Linked DNA regions of Homo sapiens: region 1 is linked to region 2. Evidence: fine-mapped QTL for protein levels in blood plasma. Region 2 holds a variant in brackets. A gene starts in the other region. All regions are shown on their reverse strands.

Region 1 (11,837 bases), not on the chromosome of region 2:
GTAAGGATGGGGCAACATGTGAGCCAGGAGGCAGCAGTGCAATTTTGCAGGGGCTGATGCTGCGCTCGCCCTTCTTGGTGTTTCCTAGATTTTCCTGGACTCTGAGTACGTCTCCCTGAGGCAGTTTATTTATTGACTTATAATTCCTTGACCTGGCCATAACTTGTAACTTCACCCTGGTCCGCAGGGGTCATTAGAAGGTGAACTTTCCCCAGCTCTTTTGGCATGGATCTCCAGGGTGACATCAGTCAGGTGGTCCCAGGCTGCAGGTGACTGCACTCCGGGATGAAGCAAGCGAGTAATGTCCACATGGAAGCTGCAGGGGTCTTCCCCAGTAACCTTCGGCGGTGGCCTGCGCTGGGGGACCTGTAAGGGGCCTCAAAGTTTCCATTTGGGTCCACAGTTAGTGGTGTGGCTGATGGCACCAGCCGCGGCTGGCCTAGCTGTTGCTCACTGAGCTCCGGCTTGGCCCCCTTCTCGGCTACTTTCTTCTCTTCAGCTCATTCTTGTCAGTTCGGCATCACCACCGCCCACTTCCACTTCAGAGCCCTGTCCTGCAGGCACCTTTCCTGATGCCTGGGGTGAGGAAGTCGAGACCCCTCGGCCATTTCCAGGTTCGTTCGAAGCCCCGCCTCTTCGGGGGAGAGGAGGGTAGCGTCTTCCGCGCGGGGCTGCTGCGGCTGCGCAATCGCGGCCTGGTGGCATTGCTCTCCTCCTACTGCGCAGGCGCGATGCTGGGTTCGTCGTCCGGTGTGGATGCCGGTCTTCCTGCTGCGCAGGCACCGTGCTGGGTTCGCGGCCTGGCCTCAGTGCGTGTCCTTTTGCTGCGCAGGCGCAGTGCCGGGTTCGCCGCCCGGCCTCAGTGCTAGTGCTTCTGCTGTGCAGGAGCAGTACTGGGTTCGTGGCCTGGCGTCAGTTGTGCGCCTGCGCGCTGGCGCTCTAGGCTGTGGCTCTCAGCGACTACGGAGGCCAAGGCAGGACGCGGGCTGCGGGCGTGGGAGGGCACGATCTCAGCTCACTGCAACTCGGCGAGGCGCTGGCCGAGACCATGACTATTGGTTTTTAGGTTAACATTTTATTTTTAAATAGAACTTAACTCTGGCAGAAGCCCTGTGACCCTCAAGGGACTTGGGCGCATCCCTCCCCGCTGAGTCCTCGCCGGGAAGGAGTCAGCGCGGGGGCGGCACTGATGTCCCTGTGGGCAGGACTCCGCCGAGGCCTCGATTTGCTGGGCCCCGCCCCTGAAAGCCTTCGCGCACGCTGCCCCTTCCTCCAGGCCGCCCCCCTGGATGGACGGAGCAGCGGGGCCAGCGAGGGCGCTGTGGCCTGAGCTCCTTACCAACAGCCAGGCTATCCCCAGCCCTTACCGTCTTGTCGCTGTCCTCAAAGACCTCGCGGGCCTCTTCGTATGAGCAGGTCTCTTCCATGCACTCTCTTTCGAGGTGTCCTTTCTTCATCTCTTCAAGAAAGGAATTGGCCCTCGTGACCCTCGCCAGGATGTTGTTGGCCTGCTCCCTGCGGATGAACACTGGAAGGCAGGGAGGACAGGGTTAAAAGCTCTGGTCACCCTCACCCAGGCTCCCCCTCACCTATGCTCCCTGACTGCCATGTCCCTTGCCATATCCAGATCACAAAAGGCGGATCACTCTCTTGTAAACCAAAAATAAAATTCTAAGCCCCCAACTCACTGAGTGGACCCGTCCTCTCTGCCAAGGGAATTCCATAGGAACCTGAAAGACTAGTTGAGGCCATGAGGGGAAGCAGGTCCCACACGCCTCATTATTTCTTCCTTTGGAATTCGGGCACAGCTGACCAGCATTCACGTTAAGAGACCTTGAGGCTGACCAAACAGAGTCTTTGTAGCAATAAGATACCAGTTTCCAACCTGACTTCTCTAGTATAGGATCACATGACATATAGCAGGCCCTAAAATAAATGATTTTACTCCAAATTGTATTTGTTTGACATATTTTGAAATGGCCCTGCAAAGCTATCTCAGGGAAATCCACATTCTGTAGAGAACCCCCTTACCATTCCAGGTCTTTTTCTGAGCTGAGAGTCTAGCACCTTTTTTTTTTTTTTTTTTTTTTTTTCTCTTTAAGATGGTGTTTTGCTCTGTCATCCAGGCTGGAGTGCAATGGCACAATCTCAGCTCACTGCAACATCTGCCTCCCAGGTTCAAGCCATTGTCCTGCCTCAGGAGGAGATTCTACTGTCTCAGCCTCCCGAGTAGCTGAAACTACAGGCAAGCACCACCACACCCGGCTAATTTTTGTATTTTTAGTAGAGATGGAGTTTCACCATGTTGGCCAGGCTGGTCTTGAACTCCTGACCTTAAGTGATCCACCTGCCTCAGCCTCCCAAAGTGCTGGGATTACAGGATGAGCCAAGGCGCCTGGCCATGTGTGTAGCACCTTTTAAAGGTCTGAAGAGGAAACAGTTGCCATCTATTCCCTCTAAGGGTGGCCACCTATGAGTCTTCATCTACATAACAAGAACCTTGGTCTCCACAACCTCTTATCTTAACCCAGATACTCCTTTCCATTTATTCCAGGTCTTTAGATAATAACTCTTTCAACTGATTGCCAATCAGAATATCTTTGAAGCCACCTATGACCTGGAAGCCCCCACCTTCCCCTTTTCTGGAACGAACCAGTGTACAACTTATGCTTATTGATTGGTGTCTGTATGTAACTTCTGTCCCCCTAAAATACATAAAATCAAGCTGTGACCCAACTACCTTGGACACATGTTCTCAGGACCTTCCAAGGCTGTGTCATGGGTCGTGGTCCTCACATTTGGCTCAGAATAAATCTCTTCAAATATTTTACAGAGTTTGGCTTCTTTATCAACACTTTCCTCAGGCACTTTGGGGGCTGTGGAGGGAAATGCCCATTTCCCCCCTCCCCCCAGTTCTCTATGAGGTACAGCATGAGGCACCTGCTCTAGACCCATGCACCCTTCTCTGGAGAAGTAGACACATCCCACCCAATCAGCTCACCAGCCTCCTCACATGCTCACGCTGGCTCAGCCTGGCCACCCAAGCCCCCTTCCTTGAATTCTCCCTCCCTAGGGTGCTTTCAGCCCACTGTTCTGTGCTTTGGCTCAAGCTGTGCCCCTTCAGCCTGGCCCCACTCGTCTTTAAGGTCTCTGCTCTTTGTTATGTGGGGATTGGTGATGCTGTTTCAATTACAAACTATAATAGTACAATTTATGAAGTGCCAGGACACACATACATGCCAACTTTCAAGAAATAGTATTTATTAGTATTTCCTAAAATACAGTACTTAGTACAAAGTTTTCTATTTGATTCTACTCTTTTAAAAAAAAATACTGAGTTGATTTCATGACTGGCAAATGAGTCTTGATCTGCTGGTTAAAATGCCCTGGATCCGAGAGTCTGTGTCCCTTGTAGAGTGTGTGTCTGTGGGCTGTGCTGTCCACATCTCTCTGCCTGTGTCTCCTTTGTCTCTCACCCACTCCTCCTCCTCTTTTCATTTTGACAGCCTCAGTTTCTTTTCTTGGCCCTCTGTAGTCTTTTTCTGTGCTTTTTTTCCACTGAAAAATTCAATGTCTCACTACAATAAAGATAACTCTTCCAACTGATCTCTCTAGCACTGACTTTTGTCCTGAGCTCCATGTTTTCAGCTCTCTCACTATGACAGATGCCTTCCCTCATCTCAGAACTCCAAACTCTCCATGTCCAAAATTTAAAACAAGACTGCAGAATCAAGCAATCTTGAGCTTCAAAAACACCTTAGTCACTTATTATTTATTATTGGCAGAAGGGAATTATAATATCTACTCTTAGAGCTGTTTTAAAGATTGTATAAACTCCTAGTGTTGAGTTTGGTATACAGAAGGTGCTTAGTAAATCTTGGGTTCATTCCTACCTCCAGTTACTTTACCTTCCAAATTCCCCATTTCTTTTAGTGACACCGACATTATCCCACCAACGCTAGACTTAGATTTATTATTTCTTGACCCTGCCCCATTACTCTGCGTGTCTGCTCCACTCCCACACACTTGCTCTGAAATGCAGCCCACACGTGGCTCCCTGCAACCTGCAGCCTCATGTCACCTCCACTCCACAAAAGGCACTGAGGAAGCTGAGGGGTGGGGAATGCCCATCTCCCTTGGGGCCTCTGGCTCTCATGTTGGGATGACCACAGCCTCAGACAAGTTATCCAAGCCTGGCTTAGTGTTTCCCAAACTGGGACTCGCGGGCCTCCTGGGCTCCAGTTGGGGTCTGAAGACCGCGTTCTGCCTTGCCCTCGGTGTTCTGACGCACCTCCATGTGAACACCTCTCTTGGTACCTTCTCTCTTCCCCTTGGTCTCCTTCCTTGTGGCCAGATGGACATATGCCTGCTTTTTTCTCTGCTACCCTAGAGCCACAGTGATGGTTCACAGACTTGCCACAAGGATTGGTCCCCACTCAACTGGAGCCTGACGCCCTCACTGTCTCTGGTCGATCCCTTGCGCCTCCTCTGACCTCTTAGAGGAACTCGCTGTTCTGTGATAGCGGCCACAGCTCTGTTCCCCTTGGCATCCACCCCCGAGCATCCCCAGGCTGATTGACCAGTAAGAAGTCACCTTTCCTTTGCAGCCCCTGTCCAGTTCCCGCCTTTTCCCATCTCCCTGAAGCCTGCTCAGCTCTCCCCAGCTCATGGGGGTAGGACACGGCCTATAAGGTTGAGCTGGACTGTGTGAGGAAGAGGGTACAGGTGGCAGGCACGGGGTGGAAAGGGTGATGCAAGGAAGTCAAGGACTACCCAGAATCTGCCTCTAGTGGTCTTAGAACAGAGCCCAGGGTCTTCCCATGGCCAGGCCTCCCAGGCCTCACCACCTTCAACTCTGCCCTCATTCACCTCTCTCTGCCACACTGGGCTCTGCGCTGACCCTGGCTGAGCCCAACACTCACACCCCAGGACTTTTGCACCAGTCACCTCCCTGTCTGGAACATTCTTTCCACAGATACCCAAGTGGCTCAGGCCCAGCGCCCTCCGAGACACCCTCCCTGACCACGCCCTCTGACGTTGCCCCCACTCGTGTCTCTTTCATCCCCTTACACTGTGCTATTTGTCTTCTAGCACCCAACCCCTCTCTGACATTACATGCTGACAGGCTTATCCTTCCCTCCGCTGGAAAAAGACTTGACGTGTTTGGTCACAGCTGTATGCCCGTGCCTAGCACGGCCGGAACTTAACCAATATGTGTTGAGGGAATGAAGGAAAGATGGCGTGCCTGGCTCAGCCCTCTGGACTGAATCTGGGCGCTTCTGCTATCTGTTATGGCTGAGTCGCATCAACGCTTCAGTCAGACTGAGCAGGCCGGGTCTGGGCCACGTGGCCACACTTTCTGATGTGAGTAAAATGGGATTTTGGCAAAACGAAATTAAAACAAGGTTTTTAGGCACTTGTCTCAAGAAATTAATGGAACACTCTAGAACTCTGATATGGAGCATCCAGATTGGTAGACATTTGTCGTGTGGTTTGTTTCTTCAGAAGCTGTTGGGAGCATTGCAATCCTCGAGCACACAGTTGTGTTTGTTGTTTTGGCAACATCAGTGAATTCCACAGTCAGCAACTGCATTTGAGCAAGTTTTACCAGCAAGCAAAATTTTCAGTCAGTAAGGTCCAAACTCATGAAGAATGGGTTTAAACTTGTTGAATGTAAAGATTGAAACTGAAGCCACGTAGCTTTAATGATTGCCAGTACAACAGCAGTAGTTTAAAGGCTGGCACTGCAGGTGCTCTGCGTATTCTGATTTTATTAAAATAAAAAGTTGGATTGCAGAAAACACTCACAGGTGGCAGGACAGGGCTGAATAATGTCCCTCCAAATTCATGTCTTTCCCAGAACCTCAGAACCTGACCTTAATTGGAAATAGAACTTTTGTGATGTATTTAGTTAGGAAGACATTTTATGGGAGTAGAGTGAGCCCTAAATCCAATGACTGGTGTCCTTCTGAGAGAAAAGAAGACAGAAAAACAGCCATGGTGAGAACCCCATGCGATGATGGAGGCAGCGATGGGAGCAATGCTCCCACAAGCCATGGGCTGTGAGGCCGCTGGCACCCCGAGGCCAGGAAACAGGCCTAGAGCAGACTCTCTCCCAGCCTCTGGAGGAACCAGCCCCGCTGACGCCTTGATTTTGAACTTCCAGCCTCCAGAGCTGTGGGAGAAATGTTTCTGTTGCTTTAAGCTACTTGGTCCATTGTCCTTTCTTGTAGCAGTACCAGCAAAGGAATGCTGAGGTCCCACCGCCCCAGAAGAACTTCCGTGACTGCCAGGACAGCTGTGCTCGTTTAAAGGCTAGACTGCAGATGCTGTGCGCATTCTGATTTTATTAAAATCAAAAGTGTGCACAGCAGGGTCCTGAGTGGGACCTTCTGGGACCTGTGTTCAGCCCCACCCACCCCACAGTGCAGCTGCCGAGGCCTCTGAGGCAGAGTAGGGGAGAGAGATGGCCTGGCCCTGGCTCTCCGGGGCTGGCCATGTCCACCCAGGGTCCAGGCCGGCCCCCGGGGACACCACAGGCCATGGTTATGAGCCAGGCCCGCATCACACAGCTAAGGGTGCCAATACCCTGTGGACCCAGAGGTCCGCGAGGTGGGCGCCTGCATTTCCCATTGGCAGGAAGGGAAGCTGGCGCTCCACCAGGACTCTGCATAACTCCCCTAGTTTCCTCCTGTGGGTCTGGGTGGGCTCCTGGCCTGTCTTCTCATCCCCACCCTCTGCTTCTTCCCAGGAAGAGGAGTCCTGCCAACTTCCATTCCCAATAAGCCAGAGCAGCTTCCAGAGTCCCGGGCCGGGCTTAGGGCCTCGGGAGCCCCGGGCCGGGCTTAGGGCCTCAGGATCCTAGAGCATTCCGGCTGCAGAATTTTCTACCAATTCGCGGAAGCATCTGTCTGTTTGCAGAGTAGCTTTGCTGTCGATGATGATGGCATGGGTCCTTCCAGGGCCTTGTTCCACCCACGCTGATCTCATCCCACCACAAGCATCACAGTGGGCTCCTGCAGGGGGCAGTGTGGCCTGAGGGGGAGGAAGAAGGCTGGGCGAGTTGGAGCCACACAGTACCCCATGAAGACGGGAGTCCCGTTCCGCGTGGGAGACAGGAAGATGTGGCTCAGGGGACAGAGGCTGGGGAGGGCAGGGGGTTGAGGGTGGGATGGAGAAGACCCCCGTGTGATGTGACTGGAGCTCCAAGTCACCAGGCGGAGGGGCCGTTTAGGTCAGTGATGCACTGAGGATCCACTCAGCCTTCCCAGGGGTCTCCCCTTTCCACCCCACGAGGGTCTCCCCCTGCTCCGTCTCTCCCTCACACATTCCCTTCCCAGGCCTGGGTCCCCTTGGTGCCCCTGCCTGTCCACTTTGTCCAGGATGCAAACAAGTCTAGGGTCCCTGTCTCTCGTGTCCCCACCAGAGGGGCCTCCTCTTCCTCCGCTGTCCCCAGGCTTGCCTGGCTTCTGTCCTGTCTGGGCCTCTGCTTTTGGACAGACCCGGGGGTCCTGGACAGCCCTGCTGCCCCCACCTGTCCAGCTGTGCATTAGGCAGCTCCTTCCCCGACGGAGCCAGTCCGAGAGTGGTGGCACTGGCTCGGCTCAGCCTCCTCCTCCCTGGGAGCTCCTCTGCTGTGCCCCTCGTCCTGTGCCTCCCTGTGGTGGCAGATGGCTAACTGTCCTGTCTCTGCCTGCCCCAACCCCTCCCTCTCTCTCTGTCTCCGTCTTTCTACCTCTGTCTCTGCCTCTTGGCCTCCCATCTCACTGTGTCTCCGTTTCTCCTTCCCTCTCCCTTTCTCTCTCTGACTCTGTCCTTGTGTTTTTGTCTCTGTGACCTCTGATCCGCCCGTCTGACTCTCAGCCCCAGGGAGCCACAGCTGGCCTTGAGGATGCCGTTGGCTGGAAAGGCCAAGCCCAGCCATCCGAGCCCAGCCTCTGGCAGCACTCAAGGCACCCACCGTCCAGGCTGCAGAGATGAGAGGGTTTCCCCAACTGCCGCCCCTCCCTGCTCCCTGGCGCTGCTTTTGGGTCTGAAGGGCGAGGGGCACTTACGACTTTCCCCGAGCAGCAGGAGGCCAGCCAGGGAGGCACTGAGCAGGACGAGGTGCAGTGGGCGCCCCATGGTGTGGCCGAGTACTGTGTCCCTGTCCTCACTGGGACAGGCTGCTGGAGCAAAGTCCACGCCCCAGCTGGGATGGCTGTTGTCTGGCTGCTTATCACTTGGCTTAGGCCTCCTGATTGGAGCCGAGACCTGCTGGCGAGGCAGGGGAGTGACCACGCTGGGAACACATCCACTCTGGCCCCACCTTCCCCAGGCAGAGCTGGGCGGCCAGAGAGGCCCCGCAGAACCTCATCCTCATCAGTCACCAGGGCCGCGGGTGTGGGGACTTTCTGTTCTAAGAATAAAAACATCATTTCGTGCTCATTTTGTAGTTTCCAGATGTTTACATTTAACTCTCAGTCCTCACATACAAATATCATTTTCCCCATCATTTTTCCAGAAGAGAAAACTAAGTTTAGAGAGCGCAGAAGCCTGAGCCGAGGCCGCTGGCAGTGAGCGTGGGATCTGAGCCCAGGACTTCTGCCCCAAGGCCCTGCTTGTTTCTGGGCGGGCCCTTCCGCTCACAGCCACTCTCTGGGTGGTATCAGGTGGTCTCATGTCACGGGGGGGGCTTGGCATCTGCACCATGGCCTCCCACAGGCCAGGCTGGCACCTGCCCCACCCACCCCCAAACCTTCTGTGCCCGCATGGCCCCAAAACGTACTTCTGTGGGGAGTGACCTTCCCGTGACCATCTGGAGGGACAGGCTGTGTCTGAAGCCCCTCCTGACCTGCCCACCACTGGCCACACTGTTCCGAGGCTGAGAGGGCTTCTGGGCTCGTTCTCCAGTGCAGAAACCTCCCATCACAAGGTCCTGAGTGTCTCTGCTCAATGGCTGTGGGAGTCACTGGGAGGTGCAGCCGGGCTTTTTGCCTCTGGGGTCTCTGGAATAAATGGTCTAAAGCTTGGCCAGTGTGGCGATCACTGCCTGCTATGCCGTAGTGGCCGGGGAGCAATGCCCCTAACACCCACAGCACTGGCCACTGCCTCATGGTGCATCTGCCTTGATGGGTCGCCCTGTCTCGCAGCCACCTGCACATGAGCCTGGTGTGCACACATTGTGCGTCATTGTGCCTGGCACACAGGAGGCACTCACTGAGCCCCACCCGACTGCACAAACTGATGATGCTGGATGCCAACGCCAGGCTGGCCTCCCACGGCGGGCACCACGCACAGCCTGGTCCTCTGAGAAGGGCCTTCCTGGTGGCACCAGATGTCTGACTCCTGCCTCTCCTGGTCTCCACCCTCTGACATCGCCTCTAGGCATGTTTGTATGGAGAGACCAATGCGGTGTGTGCACCAACAGCAGGATGCTCATGGCAGACACGCAGTCTTTGTCATCAATGCTGGGTGGCGATGCTGGCTTTGGTGGCCCAAGCCTGCCGCCTCATCCCACCCTGTCCCAGGCCCATGGCCAGTGGCCTCCCCGTATTCTATCTCGCCACTCACAGAAAGCTGGAGCTGAGCCGTGGCAGGTGGCACGTCCCATATGAAACATGTAGCCTTTGGGGGCGCCCAGGCCCTTCAGCGAAGCCTCTGGGGAGTCCCGGGCCCCCTCCTCCGGCAGCACCATGAGGTGGGCGCCTGCATTTCCCATTGGCAGGAAGGGAGGCTGGCGCTCCACCAGGACCCCGCATGACTCCCCTAGTTTCCTCCTGTGGGTCTGGGTGGGCTCCTGAACTGTCCTCTCATCCCCACCCTCCGCTTCTTCCCAGGAAGAGTCCTGCCAACTTCCACTCCCAAGAAGTCAGAGTGGCTTCCAGAACCCTGGGCTGGGCTTAGGCCCTCAGGAGCCCCGGGCATTCTGGTTGCAGAATTTTCTACCAATTCACTGAAGCATCTGTCTGCAGAGTGGCTTTGCTGTCGATGACCATGGCATGGGCCCTTCCAGGGCCTTGTTCCATCCATGCTGATCTCATCCCACCATAAGCATCACGGTGGGCTCCTGTTTTACACATGAGGAAACTGAGGCATGGTCACTCGGACAAAAGAGAAAGCAGAGCCAGCTCTGACCTGGATCAGGGCCCGCCACTGGCTCCCGTCCCGTTTAGGGGGCATTAGGAACCGGGGTCTGGCCAGGGTCAGCAAGCATCTTCAGCAGAGGTCCTGACACTAACCATGCTGGGCTTGGCGGGTCAGCTGGTCTGTCCGGCTGGACGTCTCTGCCACGGCCACTCCATGGACACTAATATGGGTGTGTTCCCATAAAACTTTATTTACAAGAGCAGGGTGCCTTGGAAGCAGCCCACGGCTGTAGTTCATAGACCCTGTCTGCTCTGAAGTAGATGATGCCTGAGTGCCCCCGAGGTGGGTTGCTGGTGCCTGCCTTGCTGCTGTGAGTGCCAATGGTGCCCACCTTGCTGCTGTGAGTGCCAGTGGTGCCCAGGACGGCCCTGCAGGGATGGCATCGAGTCCACTCTCTGAGCCGTGCTTGCCGGAGTCTGAGTGGGGGCACTGTTTGTCACCTCCCCATTTCTCTGTTCATGTGTTTCTCATTCTTCTTCCACCACCCTGGGGACTCAGCAAGAGTGCAGCTTGCCAGGTCCTCCCACTGCAGCCAGGGCCTGGGAACTTGCATTTAGTGATGCGTGTGTCCCTGACTCTTGAGCAGGTGCTCCCAGGGTCTCTGTGAAATATCATTGACAAGGGCTGTGGCAGGGAGAGAACATCCAATTCCACAGGATCCTGGGAGCTACAGCCTCAAACATCTATCAAACAGCTTTTGTTTTTAAAAAATAGCTTCCATGTGAGGGTTCATTTCAGTGATGTTGAAAATTGTGAAAGAAAAGAGCATCTCAGAGGATGAGCACCGGGGGCTCCAAAAATGAATCATGGGCAACCCAGTGGGTGGCAGGCACCACAGGTGTGCGGAGGAGACGCAGCCGTTTATTGTGAAGCTGGGAAGCAGGTGGGGAATAGTCTGTGCAGCCCGGCACCCAGCGAAGGGAGAAATACATTTGGGGGAGAGTTTGGGGGCATTCGCCACCATGCATGGTGATGCTTCTGAATTGTCTGAAGTGAAGATGATAATGGATAAGAACCAGAAAAGTGAGAGCTAAACAACCGCCTTCAGAGGACAGCACACATGGAGTCAGCATCGGTGTGTGTGCATCTGTGTGTGCATCTGTGTGTGTACATCGGTGTGTGTGCGCATTGGTGTGTGTGTGCTCATCCATGTGTGTGCATATCTGTGTGTGCGCACATCGGTGTGTGCATATCTCTGTGCATCCGTGTGCACTGATGTGTGCGTGCATTGGCATGTGCGTGCATCCATGTGTATATCTGTGTGTGCATCTGTGTGTGCATATCTCTATGTGCGTGTGCATCGGTGTGTTTGCGTATCTCTGTGTGACCATCTGTGTGTGCATCCGTGTGTGTGCATATCTCTGTGTGTGTGCATTGGCGTGTGTGTGTGTGCATCCATGTGTGTTCATGCCTCTACTGTCTCCAGCAATGAAGGCAGAGCAGCAGCCTGAGGCCAGCAGATCACGTGCAGGTGGGCTTGGCTGAAGGGAGGTAAGGAGGCTCAGCTGGGCTGTCTGCCTCCAGGACAACCTTGGCACTCCCCTGCCCCTCTGTCCAGCGCCTGTCTGCCTCTGCCTCTCATCTTTTCTATTCCATCTCTGTGTCTCTATTAGTCTCTTTGAATCTTGGAGTCTCTTTGAGTCTCTCTCCATGTCCTCAGAGTCTCTCCCTCAGTCTCTCTCTGTCTCTGTCTCTCTCTGTTTCTGTCT
Region 2 (12,417 bases):
AATATTAACTGCCAAATGCTAGAGTTGCAAAGTTAAGTAAGACATATTCCTGCCCTTGCATATACCACAAGTAGGAAGCTTACATGATGGTGATAGGTGAAATGTAATCCAAGTCTTTAAAAATGGCAGTAGGTTTTAAATACATACATTTTGTGAAACCTAAAGGAGAAATATTAGTAGTTACACAAATTAGGGCTGGGCGTGGTGGTTCACACCTGTAATCCTACACTTTGGGAGGCTGAGTCGAGAGGATTGCTTGAGGCCAGGAGTTCAAGACCAGCCCGGCCAACATAGCGAGACCCCATTTCAATTTAAAAAAGAAAGAAATTATACAAATTACGAACATTAAGCTAGTCTCCAGTTTCAACATTTCTCGTATACTTTGATTTACCTTGCAATTTTTATCTGTCTAGAGTTCTGAAGAGGAAGAATTCTGTAAACTGTGGTTTTGAATGCTCAGTGATACTCTGTATTATCTTCTCCAGCAGTAAAATCATCCTGCAATCCTGATCTATTCACTGTCTTATTAATACTGGTTGTGATTTGTAGATACTGGCTCTTCTCAGATGAAGTTCCAGGATTATTCATTGAAAAAGGCTGGGTACATGACAGCATTGACTACCGATTCAACCATCACTGCAAAGACCACACAGTCTCTGGTGATGAGGATTACTGTCCTCGCAGTGAGTATATCTGTATATCTAAGAGTTATTTCACCCTGCTCAAGTGGGCTCAACATTAAGGACTGCTTTTCCTCTGTCACGTTTTCCATTTGCAGAATTTCTTTATTGTGGTCTTAGATCTATTTGAGTGAAGTAGGTAGATGTGAAATGTGTAGAAAGAAGGAGAGAAACCCACGTTTGATTACCACCTTTGTTCTAAGCATAGTGTGAGAAGATGAAGAGCTTGAATATGAGGATATTTGGGTATTAGCTTTTATAGGAGCAGTTTTCAAACTTTGTCCCTTGGAAGCCTTTGTAGGTGCCTCAAGGGCTGAAATTGAGGTATGGGGTCTAAGAAGGGCAGTGTTAGATGTCCTCTTCTTCTTCTTCTTTTTTTTTTTTTTTTTGAGACGGAATTTCACTCTTGTTGCCCAGGCTGGAGAGCAATGGCGTGATCTCGGCTCACTGCAACCTCCACCTCCTGGGTTCAAACACTTCTCCTACTTCAGTCTCCCGAGTAGCTGGGACTACAGGTGTGTGCCACCACATCTGGCTAATTTTTGTATTTTTTGTAGGGACGGGGTTTCGCCATGTTGGCCAAGCTGGTCTCAAACTCCTGACCTCAGGTGATCTGCCCACCTCGGCCTCCCAAAGTGCTGGGGATTACAAGTGTGAGCCACTGCACCTGACCCTCTTCTTCTACTTTTAAAATTAATTTATTCAGTGTTTATGCTGAATCTCTATTTGTGAAGCAGTTTGTCATACGCTAGGGGTATAGCAGCAAACAAGACAGATAAGGTTCTTAAAATTCTTGTGAGGAGAAACATGGCAAATACCTAACGAAAAATGAGTGACTGAGAGGGGATCATGTAGGGACACTGGTAATATTCTTTCTCTTGATCTGGGTGCCGGGTATATGTGTTCAGTTTGTAAAAGAAACACACACTGAATAGTTTTCTGAATATATATCCATATTCTTTCTTAAAGTGTATGTATTGAGTATATTTCAAGAAAGAAATAAAACAAATTTTAATTAAAAAAATAAGATGGTTAGGTTAGGTCAGGTTTTCTCAACCTCAGTGTTACTGACATTTTGGGCTAGATGAATCTTTTTTTTTTTCCTCCCACCATGACACTGATGAGGAAGATAGTTTTTTGTACTGGGAGCTGTCCTGTGCATTATAGGTTATTCGGGAGCTCCCCTCTACCCACTAGGTGGTAGCAGTGAAAACCAAGTATGTCTCTAAATCCTGCCAGATACATGTGGCAGGCAGCAGTGCTCCCTTTCGAGAACCACTAGGTTAAATGATCCATAAGCTTCTTTCAGCTCTGCTGTCTGTAACCTAATGAAAATTGCTTATGTGTTGGTGTCATGTGGGAGATAAAGAAATAAAAGAAGTTGCTTCCTGAGTACTAGGTTATTGTGCTTCTTCGATAAATCTTTATTTTTTAAAAAGTAATTCATTTTAGAGAAATTCCTAACTCAAGCTTGAAACTCACAAAATTGTTAAATAAGAATAATACTGATTTACAAAAATAAACATTCCTTCAAATAAAACTTCAGATTTAAGGTGTTTGCATGTTGAATTATATCGAGCATAGATTATGTCACTTTATAGAAGAATCTGGTTTCGTTAGACTTCATAAATACTCAGGTGAGGGCAGTTAGGTTTGAGAGCAGTAACTGTGGAGCCTGGATGTTTAGATTTGGAAGAGATTCCAGTGGGATGAAGGAGTGTTACTTTATAATGTGTCCCCGAGACAAGATTGGGGAGCCAGACCCTTCACTTCTAGAGCATCCTGGTGGATGTTGTTTCGTGTTTTCCAGTTCTAGAATGGCAGTTTTTATTTAAAATTACCCAACTGAGGCTGGATGCAGTGGCTGATGCCTATAATCCCAGCACTTTGGGAGGCTGAGGCAGGCGGATCACTTGAGCTCAAGAGTTAAAAGACCAGCCTGGCCAACATGGCGAAACCCCGTCTCTACAAAAAACACAAAAATTAGCCGGGTGTGGTGGCGGGCACCTGTAATCCCAGCTACTTGGCAGGCTGAGGCAAGAGAATTGTTTAAGCCCAGGAGGCAGGGGTTGCAGTGAGCCAAGATTGCGCCACTGCACTGCAGCCTGGGTGACAGAGCAACATTCTGTCTCAAAAAATTAAAAAAAATAAATAAATTACCCAATTGAAAAGACTAAACAAAGTTATGTGTTAGTATTGCAGAGATGTTTCAGGTTAAAGTGGGGAGAATGGGAAAGAGAAGATAAACAATCATAGTATGAGGTAAGGCTTCAAATATTGTGGTGACTGGCCGGGCGTGGTAGCTCACACCTGTAATCCCAGCACTTGGGAGGCCAAGGCGGGCGGATCACCTGAGGTCAGGAGTTGGAGACCAGCCTGGCCAACATGGTGAAACCCCATCTCTACTAAAAATAGAAAAATTAGCCAGGTGTGTTGGTGTGTGCCTGTAATCCCAGCCACTCGGGAGTCTGAGGCAGGGAGAATTGCATGAACCTGGGAGGCAGAGGTTTCAGTGAGCTGAGATTGTACCACTGCACTCCAGCCTGGGCGACAGAGCGAGACTCTATCTCAAAAAACAAAACGAAACAAAACAAAAAACCAAATATTGTGATGATCTAAGATAGGCTTTGATAAATTGGCTCAAGATATATCTATGTTAAAGTCACGTATCAGTATATAGGAACTGATTTACAAAAAAGTTAGTTGTATTATTTGACACTTGAAGCCTCCAAGGATAAGTCTATAGTATTTATATGTTCTCATTACCTCTGCTTCACTACAGATGCCTTTGCTCTTAACATCATGTAAAAGGAGTAAATTCTTTATTTTGCTTTGATATAAAGATATTTAGTCATTCTTCATTCTAAGTTGCAGTACCCCTAAACTTTGGAACTGTGTAACGATTCCACTTCAGAGAGCAAATATCTGAGATAACATGCTGTGTTTAAGATATTTAAGAGAAATTAGCATCTTTTATACATGAAGATATATTTGATATATTTCACAGGAAGTATCTGTGTTGTTACAAATTGTTGAGTTTGGCACTGTGTACTGCTTAGATTTGAAACTAGCAATTGGGTATTTACTAAAGTCAACCTAATGTCTCAATTTTTCTTAGGTAAGAAAGCAAACTTAGGTAAAAATGCAAGCATGAACACACAACATGGAACAGCAACAGAAGTTGCTGTAGAGACAACCACACCCAAACAAGGACAGAACCTATGGTAATGTGAGCATTCATCTGGTTGCTCTTTCTTTTTCCTTTTAATTGTTAAGGAAGAAAGTATTTAGTATAGTGATGCCAGTGAGTTAATAATTATTTGCGCAGGATACTTTGTGTGACTGATATTTTGGATATCAAAACTTCTTGCATTAGCAGACCTGATTTTTTGTTAAGAAGATACTTGTTTTTTTAAGGGTTGGAATTTTGATTTTTTCCCCCCTGTAATATAACTTTGTATATTATGTGATAGATCTTATATAGCAGTAGAAATGTAGCTTAAATTTGGTTGGGAATAGAAGTATTTAAGATTTTCCTTAAATTTTATTAATTAACAAATTGTATGCATAGCTATTCGTTTCCTTTATGCGCATTTCTGCTTTTAGGCAGCGAGCTAGGTTTTAGAGGATCCATTCTACGGCTTTAACTGTGATCACCTGTGATTTAATGACCTTTCATTTTTGAATTTTGGGTATAGGTTTACTCTCTGGAGGGAAAGGGACAAGTATGCCAATTAACTTTATAAAATTTCATATAATATTTTAATAGGAACCATATTGGCTCTGGTGTCCTAGTACAGAATTAACATTAGGCATCATGAAAATAGTAAATTACTTATTCTACTTCTAGATAGTAGATTGTGAACACATTTGGAATTCTGTTCTCCCAAGTCCCACCACCAACTCTAGATCCCTTGCTTAGTGTTTGATTTTGAATTTTTTTTTTTTTTTCAGAGTTATCAGGTCTCTTTTGCCCCTACAGGTTTTTATGTGATAGTCAAAAGGAGCTGGATGAGTTGCTAAACTGTCTTCACCCTCAGGGAATAAGAGAAAGTCAACTTAAAGAGAGACTAGAGAAGAGGTAAGAGGTTTTCATCTTACTCCTCACATCTTACTTCTCTTTAGCATTGGATATAAATATCTGAGGGTTTTTTTTCTTATCCATTTAAGTTACTAAAGTAAAATATTTTAAATGTGTAACCGTTTTGTGTTCATATTGCCTGGTATTTTCTTGGCATATTATGCTTATTGGAAAAATATACCTTTGGCCATCTATATATAGAGTAGCAGGATTATTATGCACTAAAGAACAGTTGCCAGCACCAAGCTGTGAGCCTCATGGTTGTCAGACAGCTTTGCAGATGGAGGCCCAGATGGGTGGGTGTCCAGAAGTATTCTATCAATATTCAGAAGAGCCAAAAGGTGGAAACAACGGCAATGACTATCAACTGATGGAACGGATAAATAAAAGTTAGTATATATCCAGGCCTTGTGCGGTGGCTCACACCTGTAATCCCGGCACTTTGAGAGGTAAAGGCAGGCCAGTGTCTTGCATCCAGGAGTTTTGAGACCAGCCTGGGCAACATAGGGAAACTCCGTTTCTGAAAAAAAAAAACAAAACAAAAATTATCTTGGGTGTGGTGGTTTGTGTATGTAGTCTTAGCTACTTGGGAGGCTGAGCTGAGTTGATCACTTGAGCCCAGGAGGCGGAGGTTGCATTGAGCCAAGATCATGCCCCTGCACTCTGGCCTGGGTGAGAGAGCGAGATGCTGTCTCATACAAAATGAAACAAAAAACCCCCAAAATTTAGTATATTCAAATAGTGGAATATTATTTAGCCACAAAAAGAAATGAAGTACTGTTCTGTGCTACAACATGAATGAACCTAGAAAACATGCTAAGCAAAAGAAGTCAGACATCAAAGGCCATGTGGTGTATGATTCCATTCAAATGAAACATCTTAGAATAGGCAAATCTATTTCAAACAGAAAGTGGATTAGTGGTTGCCAGAGGATAGGGGAAGGGGAGAATAGGAGTGATGATTGCTAACAGGTAAGAGATTCCTGCTTGGGGTGATGAAAATGTTTTGGAATTACATGTGTGGTTCTACAACAAAAAACTGAAGTACATGCTTCAAGTTGGTGAATTTCATGTCATATGAATTAAAAAGAATCAAAAAACCCTGTTCTGTCTACAAAGTAGCATCAAATTTGCGACTGCCATATTTGTTGTAGACATTATTTCTATCAAAGCCAGGACAAGATTTTGGCTTAATGCCTCCTCTCATTGCTGACTCTGTGCTCAATTTCACGGTTGAATTTAGGTTTGATGGAAGAGAGAAGGAAAATATGATTCAGTACATACTCTACACCATTGCCAGACTTTTGCGAAGGACAATAGGTACATTATATTGATGTTAGCCCACTGCTTAATGTGTAAATTAAGTAAAACTGTATTCAGAATTGTGTTGTCTGAATACAGATGTGTCTAGGCAAATTAAGAAAGACAGAGGAGGGCCGGCCGCGGTGGCTCACGCCTGTAATCCCAGCATTTTGGGAGGCAGAGGCAGGCGGATCACAAGGTCAGGAGTTCGAGACCAGCCTGGCCAACATGGCAAAATCCTGTCTCTACTAAAAGTACAAAAATTAGCCAGGCATGGTGGCGGGTGCCTGTAGTCCCAGCTACTAGGTAGGCTGAGGCAGGAGAATTGCTTGAACCCGGGAGGTGGAGGTTGCAGTGAGCCAAGATCGCACCACTGCACTCCAGTCTGGGCAACAGAGCGACATTCCATCTCAAAAACAACAA[A/C]AAAAAAAAGACAAAGGAAAATGTCGGTATACAGAGCCACAAAGAAATATAGTTCTATGATGTTCCTTCTCTTTGGGCAGAGCATTTGATAGCTATGTGTGTTGAATTGAAAAGACCTGTTTTGTTCACTAAATATGAAGATCGAATCCTTCCATTAAAAGCTTAGAAGTGGCTGGGTGTGGTGGTGCACACCTGTAATCCTAGCAGTTTGGGAGGCCTAGGGGAGAGGATCGCTTGAATTGAAATCAGGAGTTTGAGACCAGCCTGGGCAACATAGCAAGACCCCATCCCTACAAAAAATTAAAAATATAGCCAGGTGTGGAGGGGTATTCCTGTAGTCCCAGCTGTAGGCTCAGGTTGGAGGATTGCATGAGTCCAGAAGTTTGAAGGTGCAGTGAGCTGTGATGGCACCTTTGCACTCCAGCCTGTGTGACAGAGCAAGACCCTGTCTCGGGGGAAAAAAAAAAAAAAAAAAGAAAAAAGAAAAAACACCAGGGAGAGGTGAAAGAGATCTAAGTAAGTTTTCTAGAAATAAAACATGTTAAGTAATTGAAATTTGAAGAACATCTTCAAAAGTTTGTTTCTTTCCCCATTCTCTTGTCCCAAATCTTCTAGGTACCAGGACATTATTCACTCTATTCATCTAGCACGGAAGCCAAATTTGGGTCTAAAATCTTGTGATGGCAACCAGGAGCTTTTAAACTTCCTTCGTAGTGATCTCATTGAAGTTGCAACAAGGTTACAAAAAGGAGGACTTGGATATGTGGAAGAAACATCAGAATTTGAAGCCCGGGTAGGAATATAAGAAAATCCCCCTTAGATTACTCATGGCAACTCAATCTGAAGTTCTTCCCTGGTGCTGTTCTTGACTTCCCAACATGACCCTCCTGGAAATCAGATGTTTGGATTTGTCTTGGAAGACATGTATGGAACCAAAAATACCTTATGTATATGTATTTTTTCCTTGTTATCTTTTGCTGCTATCCAGAAAAACTTAGTAATTGGCTTACAACCTTGGTATGAAAAGAGCTTCACTACTAAGGTGAATGAAAACTGGTTGTAGAGGCTCCAGTCGTATAGCATCATTTAACATCTTTACCTTGCGATGCCTGTGCTTTCAGGTGTGAAACATGCTTGCATATCCTGCACTTGCCCATTCTTCACACTCAGTCAGCTCAGATTTCTATTTATGTTGGGCATCACTCATGTTGTCCAGTGTGCTGTCATTACAGTCCTGTCCTTTATTGCTCAGAGGGACCCTTAAGTGGTATAGGTGAAACTTTTCAAAAGATCCCATACCCCGTAACAGGTAGGTTTAGGTATCAAAGATTGGTGAATAGTATCCATCAATTACTATTATAAACCGTTTTTTACTGATTTTAAATCAATAAGTCCACATAATTCTAGACATATTAATATTTGTGGGTCTTTTCAAATTCCTCATGCACTATGATGTTTTGTCTTTTTTTTCTTTTTAAAGAAATGAAGTCCCCTCTGTTACCCAGGCTGAAGTACAGTGGCACAGTCATTGCTCACTGCAGCCTCAAATTCCTGGGCTTAAGTGATTCTCCCATCTCAGGTTTCCAGGTAGCTGGGACTGCAGGTACAAGCAACCATGCCTGGCTGATTTTTAGAATTTTTTTGTAGAGACGGGGCATGTTGGCTCACGCCTATAATCCCAGCACTTTGGGAGGCTAAGGCAGGAGGATTGCTTGAGCCCAGCAGGTCGAGACCAGCCTGGGCAACATAGCAAGACCCTGTTTGACACACAAACACATGGAAAATTTTGTAGAGACAAAATCTCACTATGTTGCCCTGGCTGATCTCAAACTCCAGGCTTCATGAGATCCTCCTACCTCAGCCTCTCAAAATGCTAGGATTATAGGCATGAGCCACCTCACCCAGCCAACATATGTGCTCTTATAGTTTTGTGATTTTTATGAACAGTTTCATTTGCATTCCCCCATGCCATTTTTCCTAATTTATAAGTACTTTTCAACTATTTTAGCTTGTTTTTCTTTGCTATTGGAATAAGCAAATAATATGTGTATCTTACATATGCACATTTTTTCTTTTTAATTAATCTTGTGATGAATTCTTGGTACATTTCCTGGGGAAAAGGATTTAAACATCTTTATGGTTCTTAATGATTTTTTTAAAAAGAATTATTGAACCCAAAGGATCTTGCAGGTTTCAGATGTTACATGTTTACTTTTTTGTGTAGCAAATGTTCATTAATTGCCTACTTTGTGCCAAATTCAGGCCTATATCTTGCTGACGTTAGGTTGTCATTTTTCTTAGTTTTCTTTGTGACTATTAAAACGTTATCTTCTAATTGGCATGTCTTGTGTGATTGACAAGATAGTATTTAAGGACATTTTTTATTTCTTTTCTTTTTATTTTTAAATTAATTGATCTTTTAAGAGATAGGTCTTGTTCATGCGGGCGCGGTGGCTTACGCCTGTAATCCCAGCACTTTAGGAGGCCAAGGTGGGCAGATCACTTGAGGTTGGGAGTTCGAGACCAGTCTGACCAGCATAGAGAAACCCCGTCTCTACTAAAAATACAAAAATTAGCTGGGTATGGTGGCACATGCCTGTAATCCCAGCTACTCGGGAGGCTGAGGCAGAAGAATCGCTTAAACCCGGGAGGCGGAGGTTGCAGTGAGCTGAGATCGCGCCATTGCACTCCAGCCTGGACGACAAGAGCAAAACTCCGTCTCAAAAAACAACAACAACAAAAAACCAAAAAAAAAAAGAGAGAGATAGGTCTTGTTATATTGCCCAGTCTGAAGTGCAGTGGCTATTCACAGATCATAGCTGACAGCAGCCTCAAACTCCTTCTGCCTCAGTCTCCCAAGTAGCTGGGACTACTGGCATGTGCCACCACACCTGGCTGGGTGCATGATTTTGATGAAGTGATTTAACTTCTGTTTCCTCATCTATCAGGTAGATGTGAAGCTTAAAAAGAGATCAGTGAAGCAGGAGGATCGCTTCAGGCCAGGAGTTTGAGACCAGCCTGCGCAACATAGTGAGACCCTGTCTCTAAAAAGAATTTAAAAAATTAGCCAGGCGTGATGCCATGTACCTGTGGTCCCAGCTAATGGGGAGGCTGAGGCAGGAGGATCACTTGAGTCTGGGAGTTCAAGGCTGCAGTGAGTTGTGATTGCTGCACTTCTGCCTGGGTGACCCAGTGAGACCTATCTCTTTAAAAATAAAAAAAAGGAGATCAAGTTTGTAAAACATACTACCTTACATATAGTTAGTTACATGCTGGAAGCAAGTTAGAAATAAGAAAAAAATTAAAAAAACATTAAGATGGAAAGTCAGTGAATTTTTATTTTACTTTCTTAGTGTGTCTTTGCGTTAAAATTGTATTTTACACATAGTAGGCACTCAGTCATTATTGAATGAATCAACTATGTAACTCCTTTATGTGGGGGGGCTTCTGCCATTTAGTGGATCCCTTAGCTGGGAAAAGGGAAGTAGTCAAGTACTTTTTTTTTTTTTTTTTTTTTTTTTTCCCTGAGACGGAGTCTCGCTGTGTCACCCAGACTGGAGTACAGTAGCACGATCTTGGCTCACTGCAACCTCCTCCTCCCGGGTTCAAGTGATTCTCCTGCTTCCCGAGTAGCTGGGATTACAGGCACGTGCCACCACGCCTGGCTAATTTTTGTATTTTTAGTAGAGATGGGGTTTTGCCATGTTGGCCAAAGTGGTCTTGAACTCCTGACCTCAGGTGATTCGCCCGCCTTGGCCCCCCAAAATGCTGGGATTACAGGCGTGAGCCACTGCACCCGGCCAGTCAAGTACTTTTAAATGCATGAGCCATGCAGTGAACTGAGGAGCACAGTTAAATTAATGGTATGTGGCTCTCGATTTTGTTTAATGAATGTTATGTGGCATTTGAGTCTAGATTTATTTGAATTTGAGGTTGGATTCCTTTCGTCTTCCTCTGGGCCTTTTCTCAGTCTGGTTTTAAAATCCTTTCCTATAGGTCATTTCATTAGAGAAATTGAAGGATTTTGGTGAGTGTGTGATTGCCCTTCAGGCCAGTGTCATAAAGAAATTTCTCCAAGGCTTCATGGCTCCCAAGCAAAAGAGAAGAAAACTCCAAAGTGAAGATTCAGCAAAAACTGAGGAAGTGGATGAAGAGAAGAAAATGGTAGAGGAAGCAAAGGTATTTTGTTGTTATAAGTTGTAGTTTATGATTCCGTAGATGAGTTGATTTGGTTTTAAAATAATCTAACCCTATGCATTTTAGCTGCTATAGGCACTGTGCCCTGAGTGAGTGTTTTTGTGTGTGTGTGTGTTTTTTTTTTTTTTAATCACTTTCTACCCCTTCTGTGGTTTTCACACTGGCCTGTGGAGTGCAGCCCTGCTTCTTGGTCATTGGGTGATGGTCACAGTGGATGTGGCCTTCCCACCTTTACCAGAGTTTACTTTCTTTTTTTTGTTTTTTTTTTTTTGAGATGGAGTCTCGCTCTGTCACCAGGCTGGAGTGCAGTGGTGCAATCTCAGCTCACTACAACCTCCGCCTCCCAGGTTCAAGCGATTCTCCTGCCTCAGCCTCCCGAGTAGCTGGGACTACAGGTGCGTGCCACCACGCCCAGCTAATTTTTGTATTTTTTAGTAGAGACGGGGTTTCACCATGTTGGCCAGAGTGGTCTCGATCTCTTGACCTTGTGATCTACCCGCTTCGGCCTCCCAATGTGCTGGGATTACAGGCGTGAGCCACCACTCCTGGTCTACCAGTTTACTTTCTTTTTTAAAAAGGTGGTGGTGACTTTTAAACACATTAACAATTTGTTTATTTAATTTTTAGATACAGGGTTTTGCTCTTGTGTAAGCTGGTATGCGGTGATTTGCTTATAACTCACTGTAACCTTGAACTTCTGGCCTCAAGCTATCCTCCCACCTTGGCCTCTCAAAGTTTGATTGTAAGCGTGAGCCACTGCGCCCAGCCATGCTTGCTCTAGATATTTTTTAAATTTTGGTAAAAATATGCATAACATACAAATTTACTTTTTTTTTTTTTTTTGGAGAAAGAGTCCCACTCTTGCCTAGGCTGGAGTGTAGTGGCATAATCTCAGCTCACTGCAACCTCTACCTCCCAGGTTCAAGCAATTCCCCTGCCTCAGCCTCCCAAGTAGCTGGAATTGCAGGTGCATGCCACCATGCCTGGCTGATTTTTGTATTTTTTGTAGAGACGGGGTTTCACCATGTTGGCTAGGTTGGTCTCGAACTCCTGACTTCAGGTCATCTGCCCACCTCAGCCTCCCAAAGTACTAGGATTACAGGTGTGAACCACCACGTCCAGCCCAAATTTACCATTTTTATGTGTTCGATTCTGTGGCATTAAGTATATTCACGTTGTTTTGCAACCATCACCACCATCAGCCTTCAAAACTTTTTCATACACTTCTGACACCAAATACATGGGTTTTTACCACACTAAGCAACTCTCTAGTTCTCTGCTGATACCAACTACTCTTAAAATTCAGTTTAATTCTGACTCTTTCTACTTGGAGTTTGTGTCAGATCCTGCAAGTTAAAGTGCTCTGTCCCACGAGACTATTCTCACTTCAGATGCCAGTCGCAAGCCCCACGTTGCCACCTGTACCATCTATACATTGAGGATTCTCATGACCCTCTCCTTAAGTATGATAATTTGCTAGAATGCCTGACAGAACCCGGGAAAGCATTTTACTTAGGTTAACCGGGTCATTTTGAAGGATACTACTCAGGAACAGCCAGATGGATGAGACGTGTGGAACAAGGAAGGTGGCGGAGCAGGGGTACGTGGGGCTTTCACGTGTTCTCTGAACACTCCTTCCTTCCAGCTTCTGAGTGTGTTACCTGAAGCTGATCAGATCTTGTTCCAGTATCTTCGTAGAGCTTAATCTCCGAAGTCTCCCCTCCTCTTGCCTTTC

Which allele goes with the higher level. Positions count from the first base shown, and alleles are read on the strand shown. Strength reflects both the effect of a copy and how common the allele is.
In carriers of allele C in region 2, the plasma level of the protein whose gene starts at base 8,181 in region 1 tends to be lower than with A alone (weak association).

What was found. PIP is the posterior inclusion probability: the model's chance that the variant is causal. The UK Biobank Pharma Proteomics Project read protein levels with antibody pairs (Olink). The fine-mapping took linkage between variants from a reference panel, not from the people measured, so its PIPs are less certain.
Region 1: it holds the start of F10, and the variant in region 2 is fine-mapped to the plasma level of the F10 protein (UK Biobank, PIP 0.98).

What each region holds. Positions count from the first base shown.
Region 1 is chr13:113,119,143-113,130,979 of GRCh38, reverse strand. It overlaps F10 (coagulation factor X), which reads right to left and starts at 8,181. Exons shown (of 8, transcript NM_000504.4): 1 at 8,055-8,181; 2 at 1,368-1,528. The coding sequence starts at 8,124. F7 (coagulation factor VII) reads right to left here. Exons shown (of 8, transcript NM_019616.4): 8 at 10,295-11,837. F10-AS1 (F10 antisense RNA 1) reads left to right here and starts at 934. Exons shown (of 3, transcript NR_126424.1): 1 at 934-974; 2 at 2,103-2,245; 3 at 2,555-2,825. It also overlaps the pseudogene KARS1P2. RefSeq lists enhancers at 303-1,029, 1,030-1,756.
Region 2 is chr7:73,457,783-73,470,199 of GRCh38, reverse strand. BAZ1B (bromodomain adjacent to zinc finger domain 1B) reads left to right here. Exons shown (of 20, transcript NM_032408.4): 9 at 550-683; 10 at 3,799-3,904; 11 at 4,663-4,761; 12 at 7,101-7,278; 13 at 10,482-10,664. Among named protein-coding and RNA genes, the nearest start is that of FZD9, 30 kb to the right of the region's middle. The variant A/C (reference allele first, on the strand shown) is at 6,486.